2 separate regions of the Homo sapiens genome follow, and region 1 is linked to region 2. The links come from fine-mapping of genetic effects on gene expression. A gene starts in region 2. The other region holds a variant in brackets. All regions are shown on one strand. Distances are between the middles of the regions.

What was found. PIP is the estimated chance that this variant, and not a neighbour inherited with it, causes the effect. A credible set is the group of variants that fine-mapping cannot tell apart.
Region 1: its variant is the best candidate, but not a certain one, in a credible set for the expression of LSM12 in fibroblasts (GTEx, PIP 0.88).

What each region holds. Positions count from the first base shown.
Region 1 is chr17:43,987,091-43,991,311 of GRCh38, forward strand. It overlaps a transcript of PYY not described here. Among named protein-coding and RNA genes, the nearest start is that of NAGS, 15 kb to the right of the region's middle. The variant T/C (reference allele first, on the strand shown) is at 2,088.
Region 2 is chr17:44,064,156-44,068,376 of GRCh38, forward strand. LSM12 (LSM12 homolog) reads right to left here and starts at 2,516. Exons shown (of 5, transcript NM_001371445.1): 1 at 2,309-2,516. The coding sequence starts at 2,432. RefSeq lists silencers at 2,049-2,188, 2,479-2,598.

The sequences.
Region 1 (4,221 bases), 77 kb before region 2:
TGTGTCCACCCCTCCTCTGGTGGTCAGCACAGACATGGTGACCGTGGCCCTGAAACCATGTCTCTATTACCAATATCATCAGACTGGGCAGAGCTCTCCCCTCCCTTGCCCTTATTAATTGCACCTGGAGACTCCTGAGAAAATGGGGCTTCCCTCCCTCCCCGCCGCTGCTCTCTGACTTAATTACTTCTCCTCCTGGCTGTAATGAATGTTTCTGAGCCCCTGAGACTGAGCTTCATCAGAAGCAGCTGCCTCCAGGACTCTAGCCCTGTCTCCCCAGCCCTATTCCTCTGGGCCCAGCCCATCGCCTCTACCCTGGGACTTCAGCTACAAAAGGCATCTGGGCAGGGGAGACTCCCAGCCTCTCAGCCTCCCTGCTACTGATGGAATTCAGCTCGAAGATCAGACCTTGAGAGGTCGACCCATACTGGGGGTTCTGAATCCTCAGTCCCCCATCCAGCAATCTGTCTCCAGGTCTTGGAGCAGACAGCTCAGAATGACCACTCTTCCCAGCTTCCCACATGCCACACCCCTGTGGGGCTGGCATGAAGAGGCCATTTCTTCCCTTTGTTCATCCAACCAACATTCACTGGGCCCCTCGTCTGTGCCAGTCCTTGCTCCAGGCACTGAGAGGAGGCCAGTGCCTGTTGTTCTGAGCAAAACAGACATGGCATGTGCCCTCTAAGAGCTTACAGTCCAGCAGGGAACACAGCCCAAAACAAACAGATGAACAGAGAACTAAAATTAGCAATAGGGAGGGAGGAAGGGGGCAAGGATGGAGAACGAGTGCTTCGGTAGCAGGGAGGGGCAGAGAGCGGTGGGACATATGCCTCCATCTGTCCTGTCCAGTCCCCACGCCGGAAGTCCTCACAGCAGTCTGCTCTGCATCCCTCCTAATTCAGACCAACATGGTCTACTGGACCATCACCTCCAATCACCCAGGGCCACAGCCACACGCCATCCCACTCATCCATCACTGAAATGACCACAGGGAGAGGAGAAGGTGACCCGTGGGAGCCCCAGAGCCACCAAGTCAGGAGGAAGGGCAGCAGAATGAAGACATTTCCTCCTGTTTCTGCCTCTTCATCCTTCCACCAGGGTCTCATCCCACTGCCAATCATCAAAATAATTTCCAGGTAGATTAAAGAGTTAAATATAAAAATAAATTGAACTGTGGAAAACAGGACGAAATGGAATCATCAGACCTCTTGCGGAAAGGGAGCTTTACGAGCGTAAAAGCTCTGGAAGAAATCACAAAAAGAAAGGTCAACAGCCTTGCCCGCACAAGCGTTAAATGGTGTGCATGTCATAAAAGCGTAACTGAAATCACAGATCAGACCACCTCGCTTTGCCAGGCTAACTTTAATTTATCCTCAATTCAGCTCCCCGGGGAAGCTTCCCTGACCACTTCACCTGCCCTGGGTTGACTGCCACCCTGAGCACTCCAGGGCACTCAATCCTCTCTCAGAGCGGAGTTGAAACCATGTTGTGATGATTTCTGTATATTTCCATCCCCATGGACCATGGGCACCTTGACATTTTATTGTTTTGATAATCTCCATGGCCAGCACACAGAGATATTTAACACAAAGTAGAACTCAATAACATCTTTTTTTCTTTTTAGTGGATATTTTCTGGTTCTCTAGCTTTTTTTTTTCTTTTTCTTCTTTCTTTCTGTCTTTTTTTTTTTGAGACGGAGTATCACTCTGTCACCCAGGCTGGAGTGCAATGGCAAAATCTCGGCTCATTGCAACCTCCACCTCCTGGGTTCAAGTGATTCTCCCACCTCAGCCTCCGGAATAGCTGGGATTACAGGCATGCACCAACACACCGGCTAATGTTTGTATTTTCAGTAGAGACAGGGTTTCGCCATGTTGGCCAGGCTGGTCTTGAACTCCTGACCTCAAGTGATCTGCCCGCCTCAGCCTCCCAAAGTGCTGAGATTACAAGTGTGAGCCACCGCACCCGGCCCTAGCATTTTAATTGTAAAAAACACATAACAGGCTGGGCGCGGTGGCTCACGCCTGTAATCCCAAGACTTCGGGAGGCCAAGGCGGGCGGATCACGAGGTCAGGAGATCAAGACCA[T/C]CCTGGCTAACACGGTGAAACCCCGTCTCTGCTAAAAATACAAAAAATTAGCCGGGCGTGGTGGCGGGCGCCTGTAGTCCCAGCTACTCGGGAGGCTGAGGCAGGAGAATGGTGTGAACCCAGGAGGCAGAGCTTGCAGTGAGCTGAGATCATGCCACTGCACTCCAGCCTGGGTGACAGAGCAAGACTCCGTCTCAAAAACAAACAAACAAACAAACAAAAAACACACATAACATAAAATTTGCCATCTTAATTTTTGGAGGAACTGCCATACTGCTTCCATAGCAGCCACACCATTTCACATTCCCACCCAGAGTACACTAGGATTCCAGTTTCTCCACATCCTCACAACACTTGTTGTTAGCCATCCTGATGTGTGTGAAGCAGTTTTGATTTGCATTTCTCAATAACTGTTTTTTAAATGAAGGAATCAATAGACTAAGAAAAATTCAGATGGCAAATATGACAAAGGGTTAATACAAGGCCAGCATGGTGGCTCCACACCTATAATCCCAGCACTTTGGGAGGCTGAGGTGAGAGGATCCTTTGAGCTCAGGAGTTTGAGGCTGCAGTGAGCTATGATCACACCACCGCACTCCAGCCTGGGAGACAGACCAAGAGGCTGTCTCTTTAAAAAAAAAAAAAAAAAAAAAAAAAAAAAAAAAAATATATATATATATATATATATATATATATATATATATATATATATATATATATATACACACAAATCTATAAGTAAGACATTAGGCTCCCCCAAAGGTAAATGGACATGAACAGACAAGTCCACTAGCAAGGAACCATACCAACATTGGCAACTAAAAAAGGCAAAATGGGATGCCATGTTTTACCTGGTAAGATTTCCAAAATAAATTAATCAAGCTCACAGATGGCAAGAATACAGGAAAACGGGCACACTGGCTGGCTCGTGGCTGGTGAGAGTGTACACTGGCACAACTCTTTGAAAAGCAGCTTCTCGACGGGGCGAGGTGGCTCACACCTGTAATCCCAGCACTTTGGGAGGCTGAGGCGGGCAGATCACTTGAGGTCAGGAGTTCGAGACCAGCCTGGCCAACATGGTGAAACCCTGTCTCTACTAAAAATACAAAAAATTAGCCAGGCACAGTGGCACACACCTGTAATCTCAGCTACTCGGGAGGCTAAGGCATGAGAATTGCTTGAAGCCAGGAGGTGGAGGTTGTAGTGAGCCGAGATCGCACCATTGCACTCCAGCCTGGGTGACAGAGCGAGACTCCATCTCAAAAAAAAAAAAAAAAAAGAAAGAAAGAAAAGCAACTTCTCAAGACTCAAGAGCATTAAAAATATTCATGCACTCTAACCCAGAAATTCAGCTTCTGGGCACTTGCTGAAATATTACTTCTAATGGCAAAAACCGCAATTACTTTTGCACCAACCTAATACATGCAATCGGGAGATACAAGGCACAAAATGTACACCACAGTTCATTTATAATAGCAAAAACTTGGAAGCATCATAAATCTCTAATAACAGCATATTTGATATAAAATTATGAAACATTCCTACAATGTAACACTATGCAGTCACCTAAAAGATGATTACGAAATTTATGATATGAGAAACTAGGATTTAATGTTGTTTTTTTTTTTTTTTTTTGAGACAGAGTCTTGCTCTGTCACCCAGGCTGGATGCAATGACTCGATCTCGGCTCACTGCAAGCTTCGCCTCCCGGGTTCACGCCATTCTCCTGCCTCAGTATCTCCGAGTAGCTGGGACTACAGGCGCCCGCCACCACGCCCGGCTAATTTTTTGTATTTTTTAGTAGAGACAGGGTTTCACCATGGTCTCGAACTCCTCACCTCATGATCCGCCCGCCTCGGCCTCCCAAAGTGCTGGGATTACAAGCGTGAGCCACCGCGCCCGGCCTAGGATTTAATGTTATGCGGGAAAGACAGGATACAAAATGTCACCTGCAATAAGATCTCAACTGGGGCCAGGCACAGTGGCTCATGCCTGTAATTCCAGCACTTTGGGAGGCTGAGGCAGGTAGATCACCTGAGGTCAGGAGTTCGAGACTACCCTGGCCAACATGGTGAAACCCTGTCTCTGCTAATAATACAAAAAATTAGCCAGGCATTGTGGCAGGCACCTGTAA
Region 2 (4,221 bases):
CTACTGGCTTTATGGAGAGGCATAATGCAGATTTAATGCGTTTGTCTTGAACCTATGAGCCAGACAAAAGAGCTAGACCTTTCTGTTCTTCGTATAATACTCTCTGTGTCTGCACAGTATTCTTTTTACTCTTTCAGATGTGAGCTTTCCCATTTTGCAGAGGAGAAAACTACACACTGGAAAGGAAATTCACCCAAGGTGACCCAGCCAGTTAATCCATTCATTCATTCACAAACTCATTCTCCAACCATTTAAGAGCCTACTGTATGTCAAGTAAAAGTTGAGTAATTCAGCCAGGCTCACGTGATGGCTCACGCCTGTAATCTCAACACTTTGGGAGGCTGAGGCGGGCAGATTACTTGAGGTCAGGAGTTCAAGACCAGCCTGGCCAAAGTGGCAAAACCCCGTCACTACCAAAAAAAAAAAAATTAGCCGGGTGTGGTGGCACATGCCTGTAATCCCAGCTACTCTGGAGCCTGAGGCAGGAGAATCACTTGAACACGGGAGGCGGAGGTTGCAGTGAGCCGAGATGGTGCCACTGCACTCCAGCCTAGGTGACAGAGCGAGACTCCGTCTCAAAAAAAAAAAAAAAAAAGTAATTCCTAGTTACAAGACCCTTCCAACTAAACCACTAATGTAAAAGGTCTTATTTCTTCCAGGTGTAACCTCTTATTTTTTTAAAAAAGCAACTATTCTTAGGCCGCGCGGTGGCTCACGCTGGTAATCCCAGCACTCTGGGAGGCCGAGGCGGGTGGATCACGAGGTCAGGAGATCGAGACCATCTTGGCTAACACGGTGAAACCCCGTCTCTACTAAAAATACAAAAAATTAGCCGGGCACGGTGGCGTATGCCTGCAATCCCAGCTACTCGGGAGGCTGAGGCAGAAGAATCGCTTGAATCCGGGAGACGGAAGTTGCAGTAAGCCGAAATCACGCCATTGCACTCCAGCCTGGGCAATAAGAGTGAAACTCCGTCTCAAAAAACACAACAAAAAAAAAAGCCGGGCGGTGGCTCAGGCCTGTAATCCCAGCACTTTGGGAGGCTGAAGCCAGCGGATCACGAGGTCAGAAGTTCGAGACCATCCTGGCCAACATGGTGATACCCCATCTCTGTTAAAAAAAAACATATACAAAAATTAGCTGGGCGTGGTGGCGCGTGCCCGTAATCCCAGCTACTCCGGAGGCTGAGGCAGGAGAATCGCTCGAACCAGGGAGTCGGAGGTTGCAGTGAGCCGAGATTGCGCCACCGCACTCCATCCTAGCGACAGAGCGAGACTCCATCTTAAAAAAAAAAAAAAAAAAAAGATGCCATAAAAAATTACTCCTCCAAAAAAAAATTCCAATAAACCCACCTGTGGCTCACATAAAAAGGGAAGCCGTGGCACATTTATCCCAACAAGGAAGTGTTTCATTTCCAAGACTGAGTTTCCTGGAGTAATTCAGAAGTCACTTCCACCCCAAAGAAGCAGGCCACCTTTTCCAATCAGTTTAACATTGCTACTTTCAAAAGGGAGGCTGCTACTACGTAAAAGGACTCCATGTGCTGGACTGATCAAGGCAGCATGAGAACTTCACTCTTTCACCTGTAACTCACACATCCCCAAACCACATAAGCCCCTGGCAAGCCCTCTCTGGAACAGGTTTCCAGTGCAAACATCCCCTAAACAGCAACTTCCAAATGACCGAGAAGCCTAAAAATCAGCACAGCCCCCCCACCACACATACACACGCATCAGCGAAACAAGCCACTATCCCTAGCTCAGATACAAACTCTGCCCTGAACTTACTCTCCCCCAAAACAGGCAAGGACCAATTTGGTCACCATCCCACCGCCCTTCCTTGGACGAAATCCCATCAGTGCACATGCCCTCCTAAATTCCATACCTTTGCCCTACCAGCAGTTCCTTACCCTAAACACCCCTCCCCATAATATTTCACCCGCCCCTCCTTTCCATCCGGGCTCCAATCCATCAGCCCCCTCCCACCACCACCCCCTCTCCTAATTACTGTGTCCCCTCTCATAACGTTCCCCCCAAAAAGCCATCCCCGTGTCAAGCCCTCCTCCACCCACTGATCCTCGGTAAAGCCCCAGCTCCCGCAAAGAGAGAGAGACAGGATCCCCAAAGCTGACCGAAGGGCCCGCGGGAGGGGGAGGGGAGCTCAGGGCCGTGCGCATGCGCCCCGGGCGCCGCGGTAGCCGGTCGCCCCTAGGCCCGGAGAGAGCCCCAGCCGCCGCCGTCGTCCCCCACCCCCCGACCACCGCACCTACACGCCGGCCCGGACTCGGGCTTCACGCAGGGAAGGATACTTAAAGCCAGCATTTTGGATTGGTAGTCAAAGGCTACCACCTCGCCCTGCAGCCGCTGCTCCTGGCACGTCCGGCACGACACCTGGCTCCCAACGCTGAAGTACTCGCCCGGAGGAGCCGCCATCTTGGGAGTGCAGCCGCGGCCGGCGGCGGCGGCGGCAGCAGCGGGCGAAAGCCGGGCCCCCAGTGAGCGCCGCGACGCGACGGCGCGCACGGAGCGTGCTTGCGTCACACGCCGGGGCGTGGCCTGGCGCTGGTTGGGGCGGGATCCTAGGTGGAGTGGGAAAGAAGAGGAAATAAAGGGGAATCTGAAAAGTATTTGTATAGCTGCGTCCGCTCGGTTAAGTGCTTGTAGAGTCCATTTTAGAAGTTAAGGATAAATGACCTACGTGGAATGAAAAGGGGAAAGAGGAGGGAGCTGCAGTCTCCATTATATGCACACCTTCCACACAAGAGTTTAATGAATGAATTTTATAAAATATGTTAACCCCATTTTGCATATGAGGAATCAGAGCCTCAGAGGACTTAACGATACTTGGACAAGATGATTATAAGGCTGGGAGCGGTGGCTCACGCCTGTAATCCCAGCACTTTGGGAGGCCGAGGCGGGTGGATCACCTGAGGTCAGGGGTTCGAGACCAGCCTGGCCAACATGGTGAAACCCCGTCTCTACTAAAAATACAAAAATTAGCCGGGTACGGTGGCGCGTGCCTGTAATCCCAGCTACTAGGGGGACTGAGGCTGGAGGATCTCTTGAACCTGGAAGGCGGAGGTTGCACTGAGCCAAGATTGTGCCACTGCACTCTAGCCTGGGCAACAGAGCGAGACTCTGTCTCAAAACAAACAAACAAACAAAAAAAGATGATTATAACTACTGAGTGATAGTGGAAAGAACATTGGCTGTGGAGTTAGATAAGCTGGAACCAGAATCCGAGGTCAGCCTCTTACTAAATCACCTGACCTTGAGCAAGCAAATTACCTGATCCTGTTTCTTCATAGGCATTTGTATTGTCACTTCTTGAGCATCTAACAGCCCTTTGAGGTAGGAATCAATGTCCTCCTTTTACATAAACTAAGTTTTAGACTAAACTTGTCCACGGTTCCACAACTAGCAAAAACAGTCTGCCTATTTCCAAGGACGGTGCTATTTACTGCTATACTCTGTTACATAATAATACCTACCTCATAGTTAGGAGGTTTAAATGCGGTAACGGGTATAAGTGCATGGCATGTACTAGGTCTTTAATAAATGGTAGTTCCCCCTTAGTCACCCATCACTCTTAGAAGTCAAGACACTTCCCCTTCTCCCTTTTTGCCCTCTCTCCCAGAAAGCCAGGCAAAAGGCAGGAATGAGGAGCAGCGGATAGTGACAAAAAGGGGCTTGGAGGAGGGGTTTTGCGCCCCTGCCCTTGAATGTCCGTCTGATGTACAAAACAGTCGTTTTCTTAATCTTATGCAAAGGACTATGAGCGTGCATTTTCAAGCCCTACTACCACCAATGGCTGTCGCTAACCCACCCACCGCTCACTATAGAAATTTTGGATCCTCGCTTCATGTATAAGAAACAGGTTGACCTTTCTCTAGTCCAGAGGGAAGCAAAGGGCCAGTCTTGGCGCGGCTTAACCTGAACAAAGTTCAAAAGTATTTCCTTGCCCTCCAAGAAACATAAACTTCCTGGTGTTGGAAGTATTGATACACTCATTATAATAGGAATAAAAATTCTGCTCCTTCATAGTGTGCTTTTTCAGAGAACTTTTTTTTTTTTTTTTTTGAGATAGAGCCTCGCTCTGTCACCCAGACTGGAGTGCAGTGGCGCCATCTTGGCTCACTGCAACCCGCACCTCCCAGGTTCAAGCGATTCTCCTGCCTCAGCTTCCGGAGTAGCTGGAATTACAGGCACGAGCCACCATGCC